Linked DNA regions of Homo sapiens: regions 1, 3 and 4 are each linked to region 2. Evidence: fine-mapped expression QTL. A gene starts in region 2. Each other region holds a variant in brackets. All regions are shown on one strand. Distances are between the middles of the regions.

Region 1 (4,233 bases), 31 kb before region 2:
CCTTGTTGTCTTTCATGAGCTTGAAGATGGCAGCCAGCTGTTCCTTCTGAACTCTGTCGAGAAGAAAGGACAAAGAGGAAGAAGGTGCTCCTAGCCCACTGGGGAGAGAGGGAGCCTGTGTGCAGCCGGCGGAGTTGGGACTCTCCTCTCTCTTGTGTGACTGCGGTTGCTTTTCAGAACAAGAAGAAAATGAAAATAAAACCCACTTAGAACATCGGAGCTGGTTGGGTCTGACACACGCAACTTTTGAGGGCTCTAAAAACTGGGATGCGAAATCTCAGGTTTGCCGGGGAGGTTTGGGGACCCCAGGTATCACTTAGGTGCTCTGTGCCTCAGTTTCCCTTTGGGCCTCATTTGATTGTTGACTGCATGTCCCACAGTGATGTAATGAGGAAGAAGATAGGCTCCATGAAGCAGCTTGAGGTAGTGCTATGAAGAAGTAGGTTAGAAACAGCCTTCGTTGAGAGGAATGAGCCGAAAGTGGAGAAAGAAAAAACATTATCAGCTGGGAAATCAGGGAGCATACAAGTGTGTGCAAGACGGTGCTTGGCAAAGGAGCGGGGAGGGAAGCCTGTGGGGTTTCACTGGCCAGAGAAAGGGGGGTGCCTTTTCCTAATTTGCACAAGATACCCTATGGCAGGTGGCGGCCCTGCCCCTTTTATCAAGGGATGGGTGTGGAGGAAGACTGGCCTAAATGTTTGCTCCACGCGGGTTCTGTGCTGGGAGCAATGTCTTGTTATCTTTATGAGGCTCAGCTACACCATCTGACCAGCACAGGACAACTTCTGCAGCACAAACACCTCAGGTGGGGCGAGGCGGCTGCCGAACCCAGGGAGCCATATGTTTGTTGTTTGCTCCACTCTGGTGCCCTGTGCTCCTCAGCCCAGCCGGGCACTGCATCCTGGCTGCATCTCACTCTTCTGGTTTCTGCAGTTCCTGCCCCCCACACACCACGGGCTCAGTGCCTTCAGAGAACGTAAACCACATCACAGTGTCGGACCTCTCAGCCCTGCTCTGCAGCTGGGTCGGCTGTAAGCACGTTACAGGCTCTGCAACCGCAGGACCTCAGCATAGCCCTGGGCCACTGGCATCCCCCACACTGCCTGGAGGGGTGGTCTCCACGTTCGCTCCCATACTTTTGCTACCATATTCCTTTGCTTCACCCTTCCCTCCTCTCCTCAGCCCCGCATCTTCCATCCTGCAAAATTTTCTGTCTAGAGCAGCATCTAGTAGTTGAAATACTGAAGTCCCACTTCCCAGCCTCCCTTGTCCCCTGGGAAAGCTGTGTCTACAGTCGGTTCCCCTGTCTGGTGAAGCAGCAGCCTATGATGTGTGCTTTGTGCCCTCCTGTAAGAAGAAAGAGGGTCAGGTGCAGTGGCTCATGCCTGTAATCCTAGAACTTTAGGAGGCCAAGATGGGAAGATCACTTGAGCCCAGGAGTTCAAGACCAGCCTGAGCAACATAGTCAGACTCTGTCTCTATAAAACAATTAGCCAGGTGTGGTGGTGAGCACCTGTAGTCCCAGCTACCTGGGAGGCTGAGACGGGAGGATCACTTAAGCCCACGAGGTCCAGGCCACAGTGAGCTGTGATTGCACCACTGCACTCCAGCTTGGGCAACAGAGGGAGGCCCTGTCTCAAAAAAAAAAAAAAAAAGAAGAAGAAGAGGAATTCCCGTGAACAGAAAGGATGTGCTGAGCTCTGTGGATGGAAGCACAATCCATATGTCCCTGAGTGAACACAGATCATGTCATGTGGTTTTGACAGCCATGGTGACTGCATATTTTTTAACAGGGTGGATGTATGGCTTTGTACTCTGCTGCAGAGTAAGAGGCATCAAAATGAAAGAAAGGTCAAACTTCAATGGGTTCAAAAGGGATTTTGTTTTAAAACAAAGCAAACTGAAAAAACACACAGTAATTGAGATCATCTACTCAAAGTTTATTGGACTGAACAAAGGCTGAATACAGAGATCCAAGCCATGAGGAGTACATGAGGTGTGGTGCCTATAAGCCAGGGTCGGAAACTTTCCAGACAAACCTAGATAGCTCTACTAGGAGGGAGTCAACGACCTATTGTGTCAATTAGATCCCAGCCTGGACAAGGGCATGACTATTGCTGTTTGGGGACACGTGGCTCTGTGTTGAAGGCAATGACTGTGTGGCTGTTGCCATGTGGCCTGTTCTCCCCTAAGCCCTGAACCAAAGGTTCCAGGCCCAGATGAGAAGGCCCCTGGGAATGCATGCCATAGGGGTTGATGCTGGACATTCCCCAGCCTTCCATTAAATGAAAACATTTTCTATAAACTTACTGCTTTAAAAAAATGTTTTAACCAACAAACCTAAGAACTGCAAATGAGTTTGGTATAGTATAAATATTGTCAAATATAAAATTCCAAGAAAC[C/G]CATTTGAGACTGATCTGATGATCTGAAGTTCTAACTAATCTATCAAACTTTCTAAGAAAAGGCATAGGTCAAGAAATCTTTTTAAAGCAAACATTATTGCTTCTGCTATAGCAGAGTGGAGATTTGGCTGAGCTGGTAAGAACCTCAGTGAAAAGGTGTCTTAGCAATGAAAGGGCTGAATCCGAGATTCCTCTAGATGAAAAATAAGGGGAATGGTCAAGTAAATTCCTGGTACTGGTTCTTTGCTGCCCTGTAATCAATATGGCATCTCACCCCCGACAACCAAGCCAGCCACAGAGAGAAGTGGGGTTCCCAGGGAAAGGGGTCGGCTGACCACCCTGACGGAGCTGGTGAGCACAGGTGAGCTCTACCTCATTTGTCTCTCATTCCTCAAAGTCTTCTGTGGTTTGGCTTCAGTGAGGGCAAAAGAGGGGAGACTGGAGTGAAAGTGAACTCTGCTTTTAAAATGTTCTTTTTATCTAAGGTGTGCAGGGTGTGTGGATAGCAAGTTTGAGTGGTAAGAAAAATCCCAGTCCAGGGTCTGAGCTCTACCTCTTAAAACTCTTCAGCTTAACAAAGTGACCCACAGGAACAGACATGAACATCTCTACACAGGGCAGGGCCAAAGGTGTTCCCAGGATCCTGCTAGCCAAGGGACAAGTCCTGATTGAGGGTCTAGAGCTCAGCAGATTTATGGAGGCAGCATGCACCCTGGGAGCCTGCCCAGACTCCTCTCTGGGGTTTCCGTTTTATCTCTCAAGCTTTTAAGATGCCAAAAGGAAAAGCCTTTAGGAGGACGCTAAGGATAACTTCGTTATTCTTCAGTTCTGTAAAGAGAAATGGGGAGAAAAAGATAATTTATTTTACTCATTCCATCCTGCACCATGGGCAAGGAAAGGGGGAAATGGGGACGAGGAAGGAGAATGTTTGGAATTGCAGAAGCTGCGCTAGACTCTGGTTTCTCAAACCACTGCTGATTTGCTTCTCATCGCTTGCAGCAAGACAGTCTGTGCCGCCAAGCCGGCCAGAGCTTGCAGAGCTCCCCTTGATCCCGCACAGAACCTGGCAGCCCACAGACCCTGTTCAGCCTCTGCAGGGTACTTAAGGAAGGAACTTGGGCATTTGAGTTGCCAAGGGCCTTTCTGATCTTGGGTTGTGTGGTTGTGCTGACAATATTCCTATCACCCTAGATAATTTCCCATTCCCGCTGGCTGAGTTTTGTCCCCTCGGGGGATACTGGCACCCTAGGATGCACGCTTCCAGATGGAGCCAACTGCATGCCCGTCTTTTATGAACCAAGACACACTGCCAGCCCTGGGACCACTGAGAACCCAGCAGGTCTGATCTTGTCCCTCTGACGCCCTCTCCTGGTGGTCACAGTCAGCACGCATTTCCAGCCTGAGCTGGAAATTCACACTGGCAGGTCTATTGTCTGTAGTTTCTTGCATACATCAGATGGAAGAACCAGAACTACCCCACAGCTGGGGTTCCTTGGCCTCCTCCTCCCCTTCCCTGTTTTACCACACTAGCACCTTCCTCTAGAGTCATGTCCATTTCCAGAGGAGTCAAGACAGCCCTGCAGACCTCAAATGGAGGGGTGGGTCCTGATCTATCAGAGCCAGCCCAGTCTATAGCCTGGGTTCATTTTCCCTCTGAGACCACAAGGTGGGAAGAAGTGATGGAGAGGAGCTGACAGCCGCGCCTGTTCTTTCTCCTGCCAAGCTGTGAAGCCAGCCAAGCCCTGCCAGCTTCCCTAGCTCTGGGGGAGGAGGAGGAGGCCTCTTGCTCAGGGGAGCTGTCACCAGCCTGCAAGCCCACTGTCCTAGCCAC
Region 2 (4,258 bases):
GCAGGCAGGAGTTTTGGGGGAGCTTTGGCCAGCTCAGGAAGGCCTGGGGACTTGAACCCAAAGGGGAAGGGCACTGACTTCAATTGAATTCTCCTGTGGGGTGGGTTCTCTCTGGAGGGTGCCTTAGCGGGAGGACAGACACAAGCCTCAAGTCATCCTCACTGGCACCTATGTCATGGGGGCTGCCTGGCACGCGAACCCCCATACTGCCTTGTCCTTCAGAGCACCCATTCAGCTTCAGAGGACGTGCATTCACCCAGACAGTGGCAAATTATGCGAGTGGCCCTATTTAAACACCACTGAACCTATTCCTGTAGGTACCATGTGCTGAGAGCCGAAAGCCTTGTAGAAAGTTCTTTAAGCGCTGTGCCCCACAGGATTGAGCTAAGACAGGGCGCCGCTAAAGGACATTTTGCACTTCAGTCCAGAGCCTGGTGTGGGTGATAAAGGGCCAGCCCTGTAAGGCCAGGACTGACTGAGTGTGCATGACGGCTCCAGAACTGTCTAAAGGCCTCTCCTGCTCCCGCGAGACCTCGATGGAGGCAGGAATCCCAAATATGGGAGCAAACACAACAGATCAGCACATGTCCAAACCGCGCCCCCTCCACCATCACCGCGTGAGGTCTGGAAGCCCACCCCAAGCAAGAACGGCAGGGCCTGCCCCTGCTCCACCCCATTAAATGTGGCTGGTTAGAATCCTCTCTAATGACACAATTAGTCACCCACTTGTCAAGCAAAGCGCCTGCTCAGAGGGGGTCTGGCGCACTTACTCAGCAAAGAGAAATGCCTCTGAGCACAGCCTGGCTGCCTCCTCCTCCCCCGAAGGGCTTCTCTCCAGGGTAAACCATTGTGTCCAGCACAGGACAGAGTGGGCACGCAGACACGCAGGCACGCTGACAATGCGCATCCCGGCTCTCCTCCCTTCCAAGAAAAGGAGCTCAGGGGTAAGAACAAGGGATTACAATCCGACTCGGAGACCCTGGCGGTGGCCTGGACCGGCCAAGCGTGGTGAACTCCAGGGAACATGGGCACACAGTGTAGGGGCTGGGATGAGTGGATGAGGGAAATCCGACTCCTCTCAGATATCCACAGGCAGGACAAGGTGGCCAAGGCCGAGCTGATGGACAGCATGGCGGGAGGCCTGGGGCAGAGGCAGGGAGGGCCGCTTTGGGGTGCTCACTGGTGCTCCAGGAGGGCTTTATCCTGCATCTTCACTCCATCCAGGCCCAGCTTACCTACAACCCGGGGGAGTGGGGGTAGGAGGGTGTTAGATGTGTAGCTTGAAAACGACAATAAAAAGGACTGCTGGGATCGGGTGCCTTTTCTTTCAGTCCCAGCCCACGGGCTTCACAAAACGCCACAGCACTGACTCTGAAATCTGGACTTCAAATTGGCTGAAAAAGAAAAGCCAGCTTTCCTCCCTCGCCCCCCGAAAGTCCTACTTTTTAAACATCAAGATAACTCTCATGGCAGGCCTGGAAATAAGCCACAGGCACGTGGATTTGGGAACCGGTGGGCGGGAGGGGTCAGAAGTGGGTGAGGAGCAAAATTCCAAGCCCTGGTCCCGAGGCCTGGGAGCCAGCAGCTGCGGAGCACGCCCTGGGCTGGGAGAGGCCGAGGGGAGGGGAGAGCAAAACACCTCCAAACAAACTCCTTCGGGCTCGCCCCTCGCCACACTTTCTGGGGGAGGGCGGCGAGTTTGCGGGGCTGCGGCTTAGCATGGCGGGACCTGCATTTCCTGCGGGCCGCGGGTTCTGCGCTTCCTGGGGGCAGCCTGGGCTGGAGGCCGCGGCCCCGCTCCCTGGCTCGGCGGGGAACGGCAGCGGCAGCCGGAGCCCCGGGGGTGGGGAGGGGGCCGCGAGGGCCCCGGTGCGTACCTGCCTCGCCTCCACCGCCTGCTCCTCCGCCTCCGCTGGCGCCGCCGCGGGATCCCCTGGCCCTTCGGGCTCCCCCGGTCCCGCAGGCTCCCCGAGCTCCCCCAGCCCCGCGGGCTCTCCAGGCTCCTCCGGCCCCGCGGGCGAGGCCGCCGGCTCGGGGGCGCAGGGGCGGGACGGCGCCGGGGCCCCGGTGGCCTCGGCCGGGGGCGCGGGTTCCGGGGGCGCGCGGGCAGGCTCCGGGCTCGCGGCCGCCCCACGCCGCACCAGTAGCCAGGCGAGCAGAAGGGCCAGCGCGGTGGCCAGCGCAGGCAGCGCGGCCAGTAGCTCGGCCGGCGCCTCCATCGCGCCGCGGCCGCCGAGTGCGGGCCAGCTGGGACCCCGAGGGAGCCCGCCGCGCCCCGTCGCCGCGCCCGGTCGCCGCGCCCCGCCTCGGGGCGGAGCCCCCATCGCCGCGCCCCGCCCCCGCCCCCTCCGGCCCCGGGAGGGTGACGCACAGGCTGCGGGCGGGGGTGTTGAGGGGGCAGAGCCCTGACCACCTGGGAGGCACAGGAGGGCCAACCCCTGCCCGGCCTGGGCAGCCTTGACGCTTTGGGGCACAATTTAGCTCAGGTTCAATTTGAAATACTGTATGAGGTGCCCTTAGGTTGTCATCTTTGGCCTTAGTACGGCGGTTCGTCTTAGAGCATTTTGGAAATGTGGGAATGCAGAGAGACAAGCAAACCCGGGAAGCTTCATGGAAACGGCAGCCTGGATTGGCTTGTAAAGCAATCATAATGCCGGATTACGTTCAGCCACTGCCGTTTTTATAGGCATGTCAGGAGTTGCTTTTAATCCTCAGGGTTGCCTTAATGCACTTTCACAGAGGACATCTCCAGATCCCGGCCAGTGAATGCTCCCTTCGGAGCTGAGGCCAGCAGCCTTCAACACAGGCCTCCCTGTTAACAGTAACATGGCTCCCCCGCCCCTAGACCTGAAATTCAGCTGCAGGTCCTTGGTCAACGCTATTCCTCTTACCAGACTTTCTTCTTTGCACAATTCCAGAATGCATGCAGGGTGGGAGGGTACAATGAAGGAAATGAAGGCTATTGTTTTTGTTTCTCCAGATCCTCCCAGGCCTCTGTTGCTGAACAGTGGATTTTGAGATAAACACGTTGTAACCAAAAACATACTTTCCTACCACTCCCCACCCACTCTTTAGTTATTTTAAATAAACACAGGACGGGCATGTCAGGTATCACGCCAAACATAAGGCCTAATGTTAAAAAAAACACGGTTCCAGTTTTTGCTGAGGATGCCTTTAATACTTTTTTGGGAATATTACAGTGCCTGAGCTGATCTGTGATATAAACCAGATATTAGATGGAGTGCTTCTTTTTAAATGAAGATACACAAACGAGACCCCTCAGCAACAGGGAGAGCTGAATTCTGCTGCACTGCACGATATTAAGCGGGCCATGCACTTCCTTTTAGTGGTGGTTGATGAAAAGAGCCTATAAACTATAAAATGTGAAATAGGCTTTATCTACGGGCGACTAGCTTTTAACCACTGTGGAAGTTTCAGCCAGTGTATGGGCCTATTTTTTTTCTTTTGAGATGGAGTCTTATTCTGTTGCCCAGGCTGGAGTGCAGTGGCGCAATCGCGGCTCACTGCAACCTCCACCTCCCGGGTTCAAGCGAAACTCCCACCTCAGCCTCCTGAGTAGCTGGGATTACAGGCGCCCACCACCATGCCCGGCTAATTTTTTTCTGTTTTTAGTAGACAGGGTTTCACCGTGTTGGCCAGACTGGTCTTGAACTCCTGACCTCAGGCAATCTGCCTGCCTCAGCCTCCCAAAGTGTTGGGATTACAGGCGTGAGCCTCCGCGCCCAGCCAATTTTTTTTTTTTTTTTTTAAAGAGACAGGGTCTTTCTTTCTTTTTTTTTTTTTAAAGAGACAGGGTCTCACTATGTTGCCCAGGCTGGAGTGCAGTGGCTATTCACAGGCATGATCATAGCTTTCTGCAGCCTCGACATCCTGGGCTCAAGTGATCCTCCTGCCTTAGCCTCTTGGGCAGCTGGGATTACAGGTGTGCATCAATGCTCCTGGCCCAGGGCCTTAATTTTGTGCTCCATCCCATTGTTTTAAAGTGTAAATACATTTTTTTAAAGTCCTGTTCTGCTGACAAAGTACATTGTTGACTTTCAAATGAGTAAGAAAGAAAATAAGGACAAAACAATGCCAAAAACACAACTCCAAATCATGTTGCTTTATTTAAAATGATGAACAAGTTTCACCCAAGTGAAAGTTTAAAATACCAACCCAATAGCAGATCCACAGGCTTTCATGGCAGACCCCATGGCTAGACGGACGCAGAACTAGGAGACTGCTCAGTGTTCTGACA
Region 3 (4,258 bases), 21 kb before region 2:
CCCGACACTGTCAGGCCCCCTCATGAGCGCAGAGGTCCCACTCACCGTCCTCCTCCTCAGGCCCTTCCGATGATGGCCCCTTCTCACCATCCAAGTCCTGCTCCTCTTCCTGCAAGACAAGGACAGGGTCAGTGCCCTTGGCACAGACTGGGTGATGGGAAGTGGTGGGGGGGCAGAAGGTAGGGGAGACAGAGGAGGCCCTCGAAGGTCCAGCCTGCCCACGCCCTGTGGCAGCGCCTGCCCTGTGGTCATGGTCAACCAGCAGGTGGGGGCTGTGTACAAACGATGGGCCAAAGTGACTCGGCTCACAAATGCTGAGCTGAGGCGTGTTCTTGACTGTGCACCCCAAGCCCTCGGCCTTGGCCTTTCCCAGGTGGGTGCCTGTTGAGGCTTCTGTGTGCCATTTGGAGAAGTGGGCCCAGGACTCCCACTGCGACGCTGCGGCCAGCAGACAAAGGGTGCAAGAGGAAAGCTGGCTGGGGTGTCTGTCTGGGACCAGGGCCAGGCAGCATGGCCATCGCAGCCTCTGGCTTTGCTTCCTTCTATGTTGTTTTCCATCCCCAACTCTCTCAGTGTCCATGTTCCCAAAACTGGAGCCCCACCTCTTCAGCCAGTTCTCTCCCACACAGAGACACAATAAACAGATGATCAGAGGAATGGCCCGGGATGGCCTTGGTGGAAGGAAGAAGTGACTTCAGCTTGCAGGAATGTCAGAGGATGAGAGCGACGTGCCGTGCCCATGGGCTCTGTGGGATTGAAGGTCATGGGGAGGGGACATGGGAGCCCCAGGAACTTCAACTTGGAAGCCCAGTGGGTAGATGTGGAAATGAATGAATGAGCAGCCCCAGCTGATCCCATGGAGCCCAGCCAGCGTCGGCCGCTCACGGGAGGCTCCCTAACAAAACACTGAGCTGTGCCGGGAGGCAAAGTTTTTACAAGCCCCACAGCGGGTCGGAAGTGGCAAACCCAGAGGGGCCTTGAGCTCCTCTGAGTGACTTTTTGTTTGTTTGGTTTCTGTTTTTTTCTGAGTGTGTTTCTGAGACAGAGTTTTGGCTCTTGTTGCCCAGGCTGGCGTGCAGTGGCGCGATCTCGGCTCACTGCAACGTCTGCCTCCTGGGTTTAAGCGATTCTCCTGCCTCAGCCTCCCGAGTAGCTGGGATTACGGGCGCCCGCCACCCAAGCCCAGCTAATTTTTTTGTGTTTTCAGTAGAGATGGCATGTCACCATGTTGGCCGGGCTGGTCTCGAACCCCTGACCTCAGGTGATCCGCCTGCCTCGGCCTCCCAGAGTGTTGGGATTACAGGAGTGAGCCACTGTGCCTGGCCTGAGGGACTTCCTTGACTACACAAAATGCTGCCTGGGGGGAGCTGCGCAGGCAACACAGCGTCTTCCCTGTTGGGCACTTTGTACACACAGACTTAGTGCTATCTATGGCGAAGTGGTGCCTGTGTGTCCTGACGTTTCCCAAATTTTGCACAGCAAAGTATCTCTATGGCTGAGGTCGGAGTGGGCAGGCCTCTTCCGGGGGCAGGAAGAGGAGCCGCTCCATTTGACACAGCAAACCCACTTCTAGGGATCTGCTCCAGACTGGAGAAATGTCCATCAGGATTTTTATATAATGACTCTGACCGCGTGCAGTTGAAAAGACAGAACTGGGGACCGGGTGCGGTCGCTCACGCCTGTAATCCCAGAATTTTGGGAGGCCTAGGTGGGTGGATCAGCTGAGGTTGGGAATTCGAGACCAGCCTGGCCAACATGGCAAAACCCCGTCTCTACTAAAAATACAAAAAAAAATTAGCCGAGTGTTGTGGCAGGTGCCTTTAATCCCAGCTACTCAGGAGGTTGAGGCAGGAGAATCGCTTGAACCCGGGAGGTGGAGGTTGCAGTAAGCCAAGATTGCGCCATTGCACTCCAGCCTAGTGACACAGCAAGACTGCATCTTAAAAAAAGAAAAAAAAAAAAAAAGGAGGCGTTGATAGGTGCTGACATGAAAAGTACATCAAGATAAATCGAGGGAAAAATGCAAGCAGCAGCCCCACGTGAGCAGCGCAGTCATCTTGCTGTAAATGGCAAAGTGGAAATGCACGCATGTGCTCGAAAATGCAGAGAAAAGGTTTGTTTTTTGGAAGGGCCCACGAGAAACTGTCAGCAGTGGCTACCTCTTGGGAAAGGAGCTTGGGGGGCAGCTTTTCCTTTCCGTCTTATAGAGTTCAGTATAATTTGGACTTTCCATTAATATGCATGAATGACTAAATATATTTTTTAAATGCTAATGGTGTCTTTGGACAGTCAGATCCAAAGACCCCATTTTTTCTTTATTTATTTTCTTATATATTCTAAAAAAGAAAAAAAAAGTAAGAGGCCAGGTGTGGTGGCTCATGCCTGCAATCTCAGCACTTTGGGAGGCTGAGGTGGGAGGGCTGCTTGAGCCCAGAAGTTCAAGACCAGCCTGGCAACATAGTGCACACCTCGCCTCTACTGAAAATTTAAAAATTAGCTGTGCATGGTGGCACGCACCTGTGATCCCACCTACTTAGAAGGCTGAGGCAGAAGGATCACTTGGAAAAAAAAAAGTAGAAAGAATGTAACATCCTAAATATATATATATTTGGTTTCGGCCCCCAGTTCTTGACACAGTTTTTATTTTGTTTGTTTTTTG[A/G]GACAGGATCTTGCTCTGTTGCCCAGACTGGAGTGCAGTGGTGCAATCACGGCTCACTGCAGTCTTGACCTCCAGGGCTCAAGCGATCCTCCTGCCTCAGCCTCTGGAATAGCTGGGATCACAGGTGCATGCCACCATGCCCAGCCCTGACACTGAGCTCCTAAGTCCCTTGAATTTCCTAAGTTACAGGGGTGCTAGCAGCATGTTTTGTTCTAACATTTGGTTTTGATCCCAGTCCCTGGCACAGAGCTCCTAAGTCCGTTGGAATTTCCCGGGTGACAGGAGTGTCTTTTGTTCTAATGAGGTAACTCCTGGGTGGGCTGATCACCAGAGAGATCAAGCTGCAATGAGGAGCTTGGAACTTTCAGCCCCACCACCCCCCAGCTTCCTCCAGAGACTGGAGAGGAGCTGGAGATTGAGTTAAGAATCGATGACGCCTATGTGATGAGGCCTCCGTCAACATCCCGATAGGGTTTGGAGAGCTTCCAGGCTGCTGAATGCATTCCCGTGCGCAGGGGGTAGCGTACCCCAACTCCATGGGGACGGAAGCTCCTGCATTCAGGACCCTACTGGACCTTACTCTACTTAGGTACCTCCATCTGGCTGTTCATCTGTAGCCTTTATCACTTCCTTTCTAATAAACCAGTTAACATAAGTGCTTCCCTGAGCTCCGTAAGACGCTGTAGCAAATTACTCAACTTGAGGAGGGGTTCATGGAACCCTTGATTTGTAGGCAAGTAGGACCAAAGTGTGGGGAACGAGGGGACCTGATACTTGTGATTGGCCCCTGAAGTAGGGGGCAGTCTGTGGGACTGGGCCCTAACCTGTGGGGTCTGCACTGATTCCAGGCAGTTAATGTCAGAGTTGAACGGGAGGACACCCACTTGGTGTCTGGGTGGCTGGAGAAGGTGTTGGTTGCAGGGGTGGGGCTGGCTGCATATTTGGTATCAGAAGTGAAGGGTTCTGTGGAGTGTTGTGTGCATGGACAGAAAAACAGTTGGTTTTTCTCATGGTTGATGTCTCTCTTTAATGACAGGCAAACAGTCACTGACCTATTCAGGGCACGGCCCCGGAACTAAGCCCAATATCAAGAATAGACAGGAGGCCAGTTCTCCTATTATGTGCAAAGGACACAAAGATTAAATGAAAAACAACAGCAACAATGAGCACAGTCCCTGCCTTACGGAGCTCGTGGTCCAGTAGGAAAGACAAACAAATAATTGCACTCCAGGGCGAGGAGTCCATGAGCCAGGGCAGATCCGTATCCCCAAAGGACCCAGTATCAGCTGACGTGCCCAAGCCCTCCTGAGCACAGAGAGGCTGGTACACATTTAGATTCTGGGCCAGGCACAGTGGCTCACACCTGTAATCACAGCACATTGGGAGGCCGAGGCAGGTGCGTCGCTTGAGCCCAAGAGGTTGAGGCTGTAGTAAGCCATGGGGGTGCCACTGCATTCCAGCCTGGGCAAGAGTAAGACCCTGTCACCAAAAGAAAAAAAAAATTGTACTTGACTTTGGAAGTCTGATTTTTTCTTTTTTTTTTTTTGAGACAGTTTCACTCTTGTTGCCCAGGTTGGAGTGCAATGGTACGATCTTGCC
Region 4 (4,141 bases), 52 kb after region 2:
AAAATAACAAAAATTAGCCGCACACGGTGGTGAGTGCCTGTAATCCCAACTACTCAGGAGGCTGAGGCGGGAGAATTGCTTGAACCTGGGAGACAGAGATTGCAGTGAGCCGAGATCGTGCTGTTGTGCTGCAGCCTGGGTGACAAGAGCAAGACTCCATCTTGGGGAAGACTACATTGCTGATATATACTTGTAGTACTTTATAAAAAGTGATTTGTCATTAGGTATCAAAAGGGATAAAAATGTTTATAACCTTTGCCCCAGTGGAATAACCAATTTCACTAGTAAGATTATCCTCAGGAAATAATTAAATATTGTGGCAAGATCTAGCTACTAAGATGTTTATAGTAGTGAGATACTGGAAATAAGTATTCAACTGTTAGACATTAGTACATCTATATAATAGATTACCCTAGCCATAAAAATTATCTCTGTGAATGTTCAAAAAATTCTCCTGTATATTACGTGAAAACAAATGATAAAATGGAGAATATATAGTAGAATTTGTTTTTGTAAAAAATACATAGAAAAAGACTGGAAGAAGATTCATTAAGGTGTTAGATTCTGCCTTTTTAAATTGAGATATAATTCATATACTGGCCGGGCGCAGTGGCTCACGCCTGTAATCCCAGCACTTTGGGAGGCCGAGGCGGGCGGATCATGAGGTCAGGAGATCAACACCATCCTGGCTTACATGGTGAAACCCCATCTCTACTAAAAATACAAAAATTAGCCAGGCGTGGTGGCGGGTGCCTGTAATCCCAGCTACTTGGGAGGCTGAGGCAGGAGAATGGCGTGAACCCAGGAGGCGGAGCTTGCAGTGAGCCGAGATCACGCCACTGCACTCCAGCCTGGGCGACAGAGCTAGACTCCGTCTCAAAAAAAAAAAAAAAATTCATATACCATATGATTCACCCATTTAATCAATCTAAAGAATCCATTGCAAAGTCAGTACAATTTATTATATTCAGAGTCGTGTAACCATCACTTTACTCAATTTTAGAGCATTTTCCCTGTGCACATTAGAGTCACTTCTCATTCCAGCCTCCTAATGCAACCTCCCTAAGGCACTCCCAACTTTCTCCCCTTTCACTACTATTGCACCCATTCCTCTACTTTGTCTATAGATATGCTTATTCTGGACATTTTATGTAAATAGAATCATACAACATGTGGTCTTTAGTGCCTGGTTTCTTTTAACATAATGGTTTCAAGGCTCATTCATGTCACAATATATTATAAAATTTGAGTCATTCCTATATTTTATGTATTATGAGTTTCAGGGGTCTGTCCTGCAGACCCTGACCCAACAATGGATGAATAAAGTACACTGACACACAGATATTCTGCTTTGCCAGTTTGGCTGAGCATCCGGGCAGCTTATAGACTCCACGCAGAGTGCTGTAAACAGTTGGAGATGGAGACCATCCTGGCTAACACGGTGAAACCCCGTCTCTACTAAAAATACAAAAAAATTAGCCAGGCGTAGTGGCGGGCACCTGTAGTCCCAGGCTGAGGCAGGAGAATGGTGTGAACCGAGGAGGTGGAGCTTGCAGTGAGCCGAGATCGCGCCACTGCACTCCAGCCTGGG[C/T]GACTGAGCGAGACTCCGTCTCCAAAAAAAAAAAAAAAAAAAAGCGGCCTTGACCAGCTAGTGAGACTCACATTTATTCAGTAAATATTAATTGACAAAGGCTTGAGTCAACACCACTAGAGGGTAATTGACATCGTGGACTTCCCGAGTAGAAAGCAATTAAGCACCGGCGGGAAATCAAAGGTTAGCCTTAGGACCACAAGAGTAAACAAGCTATTTAGATAAACTCCCCACATTCCTTTTTTTTTTTTTTAAACTCCCCACATTCCTTTGTTTCTACTGTAATTTATTTAACTAAGGGGACAAGGCTGCCTTCAGCTAAGTTTATCACTGGAGCTTATGCAAACGCCCCAGGCCTTCCAAGAAGGTTTGCGTCTTATAATTTTCCCCACCATCCTGACTGAACTCCCCCAATGGTAATACATAAAGTTCGTGTACAAGTTTTTGTGTGGATGTGTTTTCAGATCTCTTTGATGCACACCTAGGAATGGTGGAATTGCTGGGTCATGTGGTATCTGACTGCTTAGCCTGTGGGGGAACTGCCAGATTGTTATACCACTTTACATTTCTACTAGCAGAGGATGAGTTTGTCAGTGTTTCCACGTGCTTGCAGTTATTTTCTGTTTTTTTGTTTTTTGTTTTTTTTTTTGAGGTGGAGTATTGCTCTGCCACCCAGGCTGGAGTGCAGTAGCACAATCTCGACTCACTGCAACCTCCACCTCCCAGGTTCAAGTGATTCTCCTGTCTCAGCCTCCCTAGTAGCGGGATTACAGGTGCATGCTACCCCTCCCGGCTAACTGTTATATTTTTTGTAGAGATGGGATTTCACCATGTTGGCCTGGCTGATCTTGAATTCCTGATCTCAAGTGATCCACCCGCCTCAGCCTCCCAAAGTGCTGGGATTACAGGCGTGAGCCACCGTGCCCGGCCCTAGTTAGATCCTTTGCCCATTTTTAAATTGGATTCTGTTTTTATTAATGAGTTGTAAGAGTTCTTTATATATTCTAGATAAAAGTTCTATATATATGATTTACAAATATTTTCTCCCATTTTGTTTCAGCAAACGCTCTAGGAAAACAAACAAATGTTTTCTCCCGTTCTATAGATTGACTTTTCATTTTCTTGATAGTATCTTTTGAAGCACAAAACTTAAAAAAAAAAAATTCCCCCAACTTTATCGAGGTATAACTTACAAAAATTGTATATATTTATGAGGTACAACATGTTTTTGTTTTTGTTTTTTTTTTGAGGCAGAATCTTGCTCTGTCACCCAGGCTGGAGTACAGTGGCATGATCTCAGCTCACTGCAGCCTCCTCCTCCTGGGTTCAGGCAATTCTGGTGCCTCAGCCTCCCGAGTAGCTGGGATTACAGGGGTATACCACCATGCCCAGCTAATTTTTTTGTATTTTTAATAGAGATGGGGTTTTACCATGTTGGCCCAGCTAATCTTGAACTCTGGGCCTCAAGCAATTCGCCTGCCTCCCGAAGTGCTGGGATTACAGGCGTGGGCCCTAGCACTCGGCCACGTGTTTTGATATATGTATACATTGTGAAATGATGGTCACACTCAAGCTAGTTAACATATCCATCACCTCACATAGTTATCTTTTTTTTGCATGTGTAATGAGAACATTTAAGATCTACTTTCCAACCAAATTTCAAGTATACAATAGAGTGTTATTAACTGTCAACACCAAGTTGTACATTAGATCCTCAGCACTCACTCATCCTGCCTAACGAAAACTTTGTACTCTTTAACCAACGTCTCCCTATTTCCCCCACCCTCCAGCCCCGGCAACCACTATGCTACTCTCTGCTTCTATGAGTTTGACTTTTTAATATTCCCCATATAAGTAAGATCATGCAGTATTTGTCTTTCTGTGTCTGGCTTATTTCACTTAGCGTAATGCTCTTCAGGTTCATCCACGTTGCCCTAAATGGCAGGATTTCCTTTTGTAAGGCTGAATAATATACCATTGTATATACCACATTTTCTTTATTCATCCGTTTAAGGACACTTAGTTGTTTCCATGTCTTTGCTATATAATTAATACACACACACACACACACATATACATATAATAGTGCTGTAATGAACATGGGAGTGCAGCTATCACTTTGAGATACTGCTTTCATTTCCTTTGGATATATGCCCAGAGGTAGAATTGCTGGATCATAACATGTTTTTAGTATTTTGAGGACCTTCCATATTGTTTTCCATGTTCGCTGTACCAATTTACATCCTCACCAATAGCGTACAAGGGTTGTCTTTCCTCCACATCCTCACCAACACTTGTTACCTTTTGTCTTTTTGATAATAGCCATCCCAACAGGTGTGAGGGGATGTCTTACTGTGGCTTTGATAAAGTTTTTAATTTTGATGTAGTCAATTTGTTTAGTTTTTCTTCTGTTGTGTGTGCTTTTGATGTCCTAAGATTTTGCTTCACCCCAGGTCCTGAAAATTTACTCCTATATTTTCTTTTAAAAGTTTTTTTAGTTTTAGCTCTTACATTTAGGTCTGTGATTCATTTTCAGTTAATTTTTACATA

Evidence for each region. PIP is the estimated chance that this variant, and not a neighbour inherited with it, causes the effect. A credible set is the group of variants that fine-mapping cannot tell apart.
Region 1: its variant is the best candidate, but not a certain one, in a credible set for the expression of MXRA7 in prefrontal cortex (BrainSeq, PIP 0.78).
Region 3: its variant is the best candidate, but not a certain one, in a credible set for the expression of MXRA7 in atrial appendage (GTEx, PIP 0.50).
Region 4: its variant is the best candidate, but not a certain one, in a credible set for the expression of MXRA7 in whole blood (TOPMed, PIP 0.86).

What each region holds. Positions count from the first base shown.
Region 1 is chr17:76,677,650-76,681,882 of GRCh38, forward strand. MXRA7 (matrix remodeling associated 7) reads right to left here. Exons shown (of 4, transcript NM_198530.4): 4 at 1,917-3,230. The coding sequence ends at 3,218. Among named protein-coding and RNA genes, the nearest start is that of MXRA7, 31 kb to the right of the region's middle. The variant C/G (reference allele first, on the strand shown) is at 2,403.
Region 2 is chr17:76,708,728-76,712,985 of GRCh38, forward strand. MXRA7 (matrix remodeling associated 7) reads right to left here and starts at 2,238. Exons shown (of 4, transcript NM_198530.4): 1 at 1,878-2,238. The coding sequence starts at 2,219. It also overlaps a transcript of JMJD6 not described here. RefSeq lists a silencer at 2,260-2,469.
Region 3 is chr17:76,688,068-76,692,325 of GRCh38, forward strand. MXRA7 (matrix remodeling associated 7) reads right to left here. Exons shown (of 4, transcript NM_198530.4): 2 at 46-109. Among named protein-coding and RNA genes, the nearest start is that of MXRA7, 21 kb to the right of the region's middle. The variant A/G (reference allele first, on the strand shown) is at 2,660.
Region 4 is chr17:76,761,043-76,765,183 of GRCh38, forward strand. All of the region lies in intron 8 of MFSD11 (major facilitator superfamily domain containing 11), which reads left to right. Among named protein-coding and RNA genes, the nearest start is that of MFSD11, 25 kb to the left of the region's middle. The variant C/T (reference allele first, on the strand shown) is at 1,592.